3 linked regions of the Homo sapiens genome follow. The protein of the gene in region 3 purifies or fractionates together with the protein of the main gene of each other region. This does not show direct contact. Each region holds a gene or a part of one and is shown on either strand. Other genes may lie near its edges.

Evidence for each region.
Region 1: the proteins of TNIP3 (region 3) and LATS2 purify together in Homo sapiens (affinity purification with western blotting; one study listed by BioGRID). This does not show direct contact.
Region 2: the proteins of TNIP3 (region 3) and GLDC purify together in Homo sapiens (co-immunoprecipitation; one large-scale study listed by IntAct). This does not show direct contact.

The regions. Positions count from the first base shown.
Region 1 is NC_000013.11:20,974,430-20,978,086, reverse strand, and holds part of LATS2 (serine/threonine-protein kinase LATS2), read left to right. Parts: intron 1-2,722; coding exon 2,723-3,217; 3' UTR 3,218-3,657. UniProt on the Homo sapiens protein: Negative regulator of YAP1 in the Hippo signaling pathway that plays a pivotal role in organ size control and tumor suppression by restricting proliferation and promoting apoptosis.
Region 2 is NC_000009.12:6,534,849-6,537,886, forward strand, and holds part of GLDC (glycine dehydrogenase (decarboxylating), mitochondrial precursor), read right to left. Parts: intron 1,389-3,038; coding exon 1,216-1,388; intron 1-1,215. UniProt on the Homo sapiens protein: The glycine cleavage system catalyzes the degradation of glycine.
Region 3 is NC_000004.12:121,157,681-121,161,337, forward strand, and holds part of TNIP3 (TNFAIP3-interacting protein 3), read right to left. Parts: intron 3,537-3,657; coding exon 3,456-3,536; intron 1,073-3,455; coding exon 1,007-1,072; intron 1-1,006. UniProt on the Homo sapiens protein: Binds to zinc finger protein TNFAIP3 and inhibits NF-kappa-B activation induced by tumor necrosis factor, Toll-like receptor 4 (TLR4), interleukin-1 and 12-O-tetradecanoylphorbol-13-acetate.

The sequences.
Region 1 (3,657 bases), on a different chromosome or scaffold from region 3:
AAAATTAGCCTGGCATGGGGGCGGGCGCCTGTAGTCTCAGCTACTTGGGAGGCTGAGGCAGGAGAATCGCTTGAACCCAGGAGGCAGAGGTTGCAGTGAGCCGAGATCACGCCACTGCACTCCAACCTGGATGACAGAGCGAGACTCTGTTTCAAAAAAAGAAAAAAGAGAAATCGAAAAACCCTAAAGTAAGGCTTAGTTTCACTCTAGGAACAGTAAAATTGGAATCTGGCATTATCTGCGCCCTAATTGAATGGCTGAGCTACTCACTAAATTGCCCACATGATAATTCAGATTTTTTTATTCTGGTAAAATATACATAACATAAAATTTACCATCTAATTATTTTAATGGTAAATTAAAATTTACCATCTAATTATTTTAATGGTAAATTAAAATTTACCATCTAATTATTTTAATGGTAAATTAAAATTTACCATCTTAATTATTTTAATTACCATTTATTTAATAATTATTTTAATTATTTACCATTTTTAATTATTTTAGTGTATAATTCAGTGACATTAAGTACATTCACAATATTGTGCAACCATCACCACCCTCTATTTTCAAATGTGTTAATCGTCCCAAACCCATTAAACAGAAACTCCCCACTCTCCTTTTCAGCACCTGCTCGCCTCTCTTCTGCTTCCTGTCTCTGTGAGTTTGGTTATGCTTAGGACTTTTTTTTTTTTTTTTTTGAGACAGGGTTTTGCTCTGTATCCCAGGCTGCAGTGCAGTGGCACAATCTTGGCTCATTGCAACCTCTGCCTTCCGGGTTCTCATGCCTCAGCCTCCCAAGCAGCTGGGATTACAGGTGCCTGCCACAACACCAGCTAATTTTTGTATTTTTAGTAGAGATGTGGCTTCATCATGTTGGTCAGGCTGGTTTCAAACTCCTGACCTCAAGTTATCCACCCACCTCAGCCTCCCAAAATGTTGGGATTATAGGTGTGAGCCACTGTGCCTGGCCTCGGGACTTCTTGTAAGTGGAGTCATGCAGTATCTGTCTTTTTGTGTCTAGTTTATTTCACTTAGCGTAATGTCCTCAGGGTTCATCCATTGTTGTAGCTTCCTTTTTAAGGTGGAATAATAATTCCACTGTATGAGTCCCTGCTTCCGGTTCTTTTGGATATAAACCAGAAAGTGGGTTTATATCCCACTGGATTATATGGTCGTTCTGTGTTTAACTTTTTGAGGAACTCCCAAACTGTTTGCCATAGTGGCTGCACCATTTTACATTCCCACCAACAGTGACTGAGTGTTCAGTTTCCCTACATCCTCAATAAGTATTTTCCTGTTTTTGTTTTTTTTAAGTAGTAGCCACCCTAGGGGATGTAAGGTGGTATCTCATTGTGGTTTTGAGTTGTATTTCCCTAGTGTTTAATTATATTGAGCTTATTTTCATGTCCTTATTGGTCATTTGTATATCTTTGGAAATATCTCCTCAAGTCCATTACCCTTTTTAAATCAACTTATTTGGTTTTGTTATTGTTGTTGAGTTGTAGGAGTTCTGTATTTTCTCTGGGTACTAACCCCTTTTCAAATACATGTTTTGAAATCTGTTCTCCCATTTTGTTGCCTTTTTGCTATCAGTAATGTCCTTCGATGCACAAAAGTTTTAAATTTTTATGCAGTCCAATTTATTTTTTCTTTTATTCCCTGTGCTTTTGGTGGCATGTCTAAGAAATCATTGCCAAACTCAGGTTCATGAAGATTTCACCCTATGTTTTCTTCTAGGAGCTCTACAGTTTTAGCTCTATGAAAACAACTACTTAGGTTCAAACCAAGCCTACCACCCACACACCCACTAACTTCCATGCCTTATCCGCTGTCCCATCACCCCAGCTGGTAGCCAGTCATGTTGGCCTTGTTTCCTCCTGATTCTAAGTGTAAACAATAAAGAAGTCCCCTAGGTTTTGTCTTCACAGTAGACACATCTCTACAACAAGTGCATTTACTGAACGTCCAGATGGCTGGTTTGTGCAGTTGAGCATGTAAGGTCACATGGGGTCAGTCAGCTTTATTCTTCCCTATGAAGTTTTTCCTGTTTGTTTTTCAAAACCCCAGTTGGCCGTTTTTTGACCGCAATAAGTATTTGAATGAGCGTCATGATGGTTTGCAGAAAGCCATTGCCATAGCTAAAGAAATAACTTTAGCTGATCACCTGAGGTCAGGAGTTCAGGACTAGCCTGGCCAACGTGGTGAAACCCTGTCTCTACTAAAAATACAAAAATCAGCCGGGTGTGGTGGCAGGCGCCTGTAATCCCAGCTACTCGGGAGGCTGAGGCAGGAGAATCGCTTGAACCCAGGAGGCGGAGGTTGCAGTGAGCCAAGATCGCACCACTGCACTCCAACCTGGGCAACACAGCGAGACTCCATCTCAAAAAAATAAAAAGAAAGAAAGAACTTGTAGACCATCATTCTCTTCATTTTTGTGGAAAGCACAAAATTCTTTGGCTAAACAGTATTTCTGATAGAAGAAAATCAGTATCTTTTTGTCTGTATTTGACTGGTCATCCTGGCCTCAGGCTGTGAGCCATCGACTGAAATGACACTGACTTTTTGTGGCTGCTGAGATCAACAACTGCTGCTTGTGTCTATTCTAACTCCTCTCCTATTGTGAAACTAAACATATTTGAAAGTCACGTCATCACACGCTGTCCCAGAACTGCCCAAGATGTGAGGAGAAACTAACCTGTTGGCTCTGTTGTTTCCTCAGGTGATCAACTGGGAGAACACGCTCCACATTCCAGCCCAGGTGAAGCTGAGCCCTGAGGCCAGGGACCTCATCACCAAGCTGTGCTGCTCCGCAGACCACCGCCTGGGGCGGAATGGGGCCGATGACCTGAAGGCCCACCCCTTCTTCAGCGCCATTGACTTCTCCAGTGACATCCGGAAGCAGCCAGCCCCCTACGTTCCCACCATCAGCCACCCCATGGACACCTCGAATTTCGACCCCGTAGATGAAGAAAGCCCTTGGAACGATGCCAGCGAAGGTAGCACCAAGGCCTGGGACACACTCACCTCGCCCAATAACAAGCATCCTGAGCACGCATTTTACGAATTCACCTTCCGAAGGTTCTTTGATGACAATGGCTACCCCTTTCGATGCCCAAAGCCTTCAGGAGCAGAAGCTTCACAGGCTGAGAGCTCAGATTTAGAAAGCTCTGATCTGGTGGATCAGACTGAAGGCTGCCAGCCTGTGTACGTGTAGATGGGGGCCAGGCACCCCCACCACTCGCTGCCTCCCAGGTCAGGGTCCCGGAGCCGGTGCCCTCACAGGCCAATAGGGAAGCCGAGGGCTGTTTTGTTTTAAATTAGTCCGTCGATTACTTCACTTGAAATTCTGCTCTTCACCAAGAAAACCCAAACAGGACACTTTTGAAAACAGGACTCAGCATCGCTTTCAATAGGCTTTTCAGGACCTTCACTGCATTAAAACAATATTTTTGAAAATTTAGTACAGTTTAGAAAGAGCACTTATTTTGTTTATATCCATTTTTTCTTACTAAATTATAGGGATTAACTTTGACAAATCATGCTGCTGTTATTTTCTACATTTGTATTTTATCCATAGCACTTATTCACATTTAGGAAAAGACATAAAAACTGAAGAACATTGATGAGAAATCTCTGTGCAATAATGTAAAAAAA
Region 2 (3,038 bases), on a different chromosome or scaffold from region 3:
CTGCACCTCAACCGTCAATCTTCTGACAGGAGCCCAGGCAGAGAAAGCTGTTGTTTTCTTTCAATTTAGGGGGGTACAATGTGATTTATAATTGTGAAATATTTTAAATATCAGAACGTTATGGTAATAATCATCACATCCACCACCCAGTAAAGTCTAATGAGCATTCTGTCATATTTGCTTCATCTTTTAGAAAAAATTACCTACACGTTTGGTGCTGCCTGTATATCCCCATCCCAGTGCTAACCACTCTTCTGAATTCGGTGTTTACCATTCTCATCATGCTTTTATACTATTACTGCATATGTTAATAAACTGCATATAGCATAATTTGGCTCATTTTAAAATCTGATATCATCATATGAGTGGTATTATCCACTTGTATTATAACTCACTATTATGCTCTTTGAAATGTTTATTGCCATTTAAAAAAATAGCCTAAATCCTGAAAGAAGCAGGTGTCTTCAGAGAGAAAAGAGTAATAAACGGTGGTAAGCATAATCATCTTGTATGCCTCCATGACTCTGTGAACTCACCTCTAGAGAGGTGCCTGCCTTCTGCAAGTCACTGGTCCCTGCCCTCTCCTACAGGTAGGCAGTTTGGAAACCTGCCCCAGCTGCTGCAGTCATATCAGACTTGTTCTCTGGCTTACAGCCATGAAGACACAACCACAGCCTTCATGGTATTCTCCACTCCTGATCTTCCAGCTTAATATCTGGACTAACAAGAAACTTAGGACTCTGACCAGATGTAAAATTAACATGTTTTGGAAGCGGCAGAGTAATGCCCAACCAACTTTTCCCCAACATGGGGCATAAACATTGTAACATCCAGTCCAAATGTCAATCCAGTTTTCTCAGAGATAACTGCTCTAATATAAGAATGTGTGCTTGTACAGAGTTTGTGATGTGAATATGTAAATTTTATTTATGCCATAATCTCACTACAGTACATCAAACAGAGATGCAGAATGTTACAAATTCTCCAACTAGACAGCTGTGGACAGCTTCCACAACCACATCATCCTTGAGTAACTGCTATGCTGTTCAAGACGATGGAAACTTCAAAGTAACAACTGCATCTTCTCAGAAGAATTACCTTATTCTAGGGAAGAGTATCATCCTCAGTTGAGAGTTCGGGAGTTGCTGGTACACTGTCCAGACATCATTTTCTAGTTTAAGGAACATTTCAAGCAATGTTCCAGGGCCTACGCACCTTCAGCGGATTGACCCTGGGGTCGATGCGGCCCTCCTCAATGTCAGCAATTTCCTGCCGAATGCTGATCATGGCATCACAGAATCTGTCCAGCTCTGCCTTGTCCTCCGACTCAGTGGGCTCCACCATGAGGGTCCCTGCCACAGGCCAGGACATGGTAGGGGCGTGAAATCCTGCAAAGGGAGACAGGAGAACTTGCCTCACTGAAGGTCAGTGGCCTACCCAGTTTGGAAGAAAAGTTCGTATCCCTTCTTATATTTTATCCTAAGAAAATCATCAGATACATTTGCAAATGTATGTATGTGGGGACTCATCTCAGTGCTGTTCATAGAAGAAAAATTTAGGAAACAACCTAATATCCAACAATGGGGGATCAGATAAGCAAATTTTACAGAGCACCTATATGGTAAATAGACAACCATTCAAAAGTACATAAATGTGTTAAACTGGCTAAACATTCAAAAATATTAAGTGAAAAAAGCAAGCCACATAATGATATCCCATTTCTATATATAAATAAAAGGACAAAGTACTTATATGTGTATTTTATGAGGGAAGATGCCTTGAAGAAAACATAAAATGTTAACTCTAAATATGGCCGGAAAATGAGACTGGGATTTTTCTTTCACTTCGATTGTATTTTAGAGTCTTTCAGTAATTATCATGTATTATGTGCAATTAAGAGAAATAAAAATATTATAGCTTATCAAAAGTTAAATAATGAGATAACAAGTGTTAAAGACTCTGGAGCAAATCTTATTGTCCCCATTTTGTATGATAAGGAAACTGAAGTTTGGCCAGTATGTGGAAAGCCTTTGCCTTTACATTGAACACAGGCTCAGTGTGTTTCTGTTTCCAAAGGTTTTCACATGTAAGGTAGTGCAACAAGGTATGTAGTCAAGAGACAGATTTCCAGGACAAAAATCAAAAACAACATTTTCATTTCTTATAATTTTTCTGTAAAGCATTTTTTTTTTTTTTTTTGGAGACAGGGTCTTGCTGTATCGCTCAGGTTAGAGTGCACTGGCACACTCACGGCTCACTGCAGCCTCAACCTCCTGGGCTCAAGTGATCCTCCCACCTAAGCCTTCCAAGTAGCTGAGACTACAGGTGCACGCCACCATGCCCAGCTAATTTTGTTGTTGTTGCATAGACAGAGTTTCACCATGTTGTCCGGGCTACCGAGCTCAAGCGATCTGCCTGTCTCTGCCTCCCAATATGCAGAGATAACAGGCATGAGCCACCACACCAGGCCTATGAAACTTTTAAAAGCTGAAGAACAACTCCCAGGTTGATACACCTCTGAACTAATCTTGCCCCAATGTGCAGTGGTTCTCAAATTCTGGTGAGCATCATTATTACATGGAGTACTTTAAAGTAACATCTGCATGATTTCAAACATTCTCTACCAACATTTTATTTAAAAATGTTCAGGCCAAGTGCTGTGGCTCACACACCTATAATCCCAGCACTTTGGGAGGCCAAGGCCAGCGGATTGCTTAAGCCCAGGAGTTTGAGACCTGCCTGGGCAACATGGCAAAACCCCGTCTCTACAAAAAATACAAAAATTAGCTGGGTGTGGTGGTATGTGCCTGTAATCCCAGCTACTTAGAAAGCTGAGGTGGGAGGATCACTTGAATCCAGGAGGTGAGCCTGCAGTAAGTCAAGATCACAACACTGCACTCCAGCCTGGGTGACAGAGTAAGACCTTGTCTCTATTAAAAAAAAAACACTAACATCCAGATGAGTTGAAAGGACTGTAGGTGAGCACCCATATACCCACCACCTAGATTCTACAATGCTGTTGTTTGCTTTATCACATC
Region 3 (3,657 bases):
CTTGACCTCCTACTAGGTGCCAAATCACTCTGATGACAGAGTGACAGGTCCTCAGAGTGGCCACAGTCCAGAGGGAGAATCTTAGAGATGGATGCATCTTCCAAGATGGAGATTATAGCCATCACTAACACTGTCTTCACACACCTGCAAGCCGTTCGAGAAAGCAGCTTAAGCATTCTCTCTGGGATCATCATCTTTAACATTTACAGATCCGGATTGCCCCAGCAGGGATATTGCAAGGCTGCCTGACCATTGCCTGGTGCAGCAGGAACATTATCCTGCACCTTCTAAATTCAATACTTCTGGGTAACAAAATGAGGAAGAAAGGAAAAATGCTGCTATATTACAATACTCATGGTCAAGTTTCTTAATACTGAATTATTTAGGGGAAAGTACTTGCTCTTTTTATCTCTTTTTGAAAATAGAATAATTTTAAATTATAAATTGTCTTTTATGTATTAAAGGAGGTTTTCTTCCAAAAGCCCCTTTCTCACCAGAGCTTCTTGAGAGCAAATATGCTTTAGATGGAAGAGGAGGTTGCTCCATTTTTACTCACATTTTCACTGTTACCACCATTTGTTTCTCTATTTGTGGAAAATAGGTCATGCTATCTAATTAAAGAATTAGGGCTAACCTGGCGTAAACAGTATGGACTTTAAACCATATCTCACCTCACATATAACTTTGTGTATTTGTGGCTTCTAGTGACAAAGGTAAGGCTGGGATACTCTGTGAGCCACGATAAATGTGCACAAGAACTCTTGAGACATCACTGGGGGCCATTTTTGCACCTTTCTTTAGCTATTGCTCAAGACAACTCACTGACACCGTTCATTAATTTTCAGTGCCATGAGACCAATACTACACTTAGCACCCTTCCCGTCATTTTCCAACAGTTGGCTATCCACAAAGCTCTTTGTAGCTGAAATGAATGAGACTCTTCACACAATTGGCCCCACCAGGATAATGGCTTTAAAGAAAATACCGAATAGAGAGAGGTATTTACCTTTCTTTCATATAACTCTTTCATACTTCTAAATTGCTGATCCCATTGCTGGTTAACTTCCAGGAGCTGAAATCATTAAAATTTGGTGAATCAACAAAGAATTTCTGCCCATTTGGAAGTTTGGTCAAAAAGAAATTACTTTCTGAGCTTATTAAGGTTTTAGAAGCCATGGATGAAGACAATATTTTTTTCCATCAAGTTCTGATTGTGCTGGGATGATTAAATTGAACACACTCTCACTGTTTATAACTGGTTCGTATATGAAAAACTACTGGCTGGGTCCGGTGGCTCACGCCTGTAATCCCACCACTCTGGGAGGCCATGGCAGGTGGGATCACTTGAGGTCAAGAGTTGGTGACCAGCCTGCCCAACATGGTGACATCCCGTCTCTACTAAAAATACAAAACTTAGCCGGACGTGGTGGCATGCACCTGCAGTCCCAGCTACTGGGGAGGCTGAGGCAGGAGAATCACTTGAACCCAGGAGGTGGAGGTTGCAGTGAGCCGAGATTGTGCCACTGCACTCCATCCTGGGCGACAGAGTGAGACTCCATCTCATGGAAAGAAAAGAAAAAAAAGAAAAGAAAAGAAAAGAAAAACCAGTAAGTCTCAGGTATATCTTGACAAGTCAGCTGAACAGTTTATCAGTAACTTTTAACTTTTTTTAGTTATTTGGATTTTCATTTTCTTTGTTTAATCCAACCACAATCTGATAAAAATTTGTAAGTATTGATGATTGTCTGTAAGATTTCTTAATGCATGGAGGTTCTTTTCCCAAACTTTTTCGTATTTTTCTTTGTGCTTACACTGATTATAATGAAATATTTTTTCCAGCTCTTTTAAAGCAGAATTTATGCTAACAAAGCCTAGGCTCCATTAACTGATCACGATTTTCTTGCAATAATGTGTTTTAAAAGATTAACACATGATTTATAATAAATACTCAACAAATAGGTAATATCACCATTTTGAAAATTTAGATTTTCAAGAAATTATAGTTTCGTCATAGGACAATATTTAGATGCATTTTAGGCTACAAATAATTTAAAGATCTTAAGACTATCTGCTAATTAGAAGGCAGAAGAAGTGCTATGATATGTGGTTGGCTTTTTGTTGGGGAAGTTTGTAGTTTTCTGCATTAAGAGAAATTCCAACGCTTATCTATAGGGAACAGACACTGAGAAGACAGTCATAATGACTAAAAAGTAGCAAAACTTTCTCCTAATTAAAAAGCAAACTACTGAATCCAGAGTGGCAGTTACTAGGTAACTCTTATGCTGAAAATACATATCATTATTTAGTATGAAACTGTATAATATTATTATATTGAGAGTTACTCTGTTGGCATTTTAGGGATTCCCATGTGTATACTATAGTAACATTACTCTGCCATCGTTCAATAATTTTCCAGAAGGTCACAATATTCTTCAAGTATCAAAGAAGAGTAGAAGGCACCATGCAAGAGAACATGAAAGATGTAGTACACAGAATGAATTAGAAAAGGAATTACAGGCTGGGCACGGTGGCTAACTCCTGTAATTCCAGCACTTTGGGAGGCTGAGGTGGGCAGATCACTTGAGGATAGGAGTTCTAGACCAGGCTGGCCAAAATGGCGAAACCCCATCTCTACTAAAGATACAAATATTAGCTGGGCATGGTCGTGCACGCCTGTAATCCCAGCTACTTGGGAGGCTGAGGCACAAGAATCACTTGAACCCTGGAGGCAGAGGCTGCAGTGAGCTGAGATCGTGCCACTGCACTCCAGCCTGGGTGACAGAGCAACACTGTCTCAAAAAAAAAAAAGAAGGAATTACAAAATTGACAATATACAGAGTGCTAAAATTGTTATACTTTTCACTACTTCCTCTGTCAAGAAGAGTAAAGAGGTTCTAACATTCATTAAGCTCAGAAAAATAAAATTCCAAATAATACCCATTAATTCCCAGGAACATTTTAGAAACAAACTTTATTTATGATAATGCTTTTTAACTCCCATGTGTTTGGATGCCCAGTTCATGAAGTCATAGCACCTAAATCAACTATACTTAAAGACTTTTCAAGTAACTCAAGAAACCTTGAGTTTCAAGGTGTGTCAAGTTGCAAGGCATAAAGGGTAAAGGTCATAAGGCACAAACGATAAAGGCATAAAGGATAAAGTAACTTGGTCTGTGTGGAGGAAACATCTAAGTTTTGAGAAAATTAGGATTATATTACCAGACTTATGACTTTGTCGTTTTTCATTCGTCACTGCACAGACACTGAGACAACAAGTATGAAACATACAGGTGAATAAGAAAGAAGGCGTTTGCTTTCAAAATAGTGCAGTCCAGTATCTTAAAGATAAATACTGTGACCTGATAACAAAAATAAAAGGCACAAGGATAATACATTATTTTATCCTCAGCATTAATCCATGGCACCTGTGGCTTTAGCGAATATTTCTAAGTTACCTCTTTTCTTTGTTTTTCCAAACACCTTATCTTTTGTTCAAGAGAATTCATCAAGTTCTTTCTTGTTGATGGTTCAGCACACTTAGAAAAAAAAAAAGAGAGAAGATTGAAACAAAGCTGTTTACAAAATAAACAGAAGTACTGTTCCTCAGAAACCCCATGCATTTGGCCAACTCTCCTGTTGCGATTTAAAAAATACCTG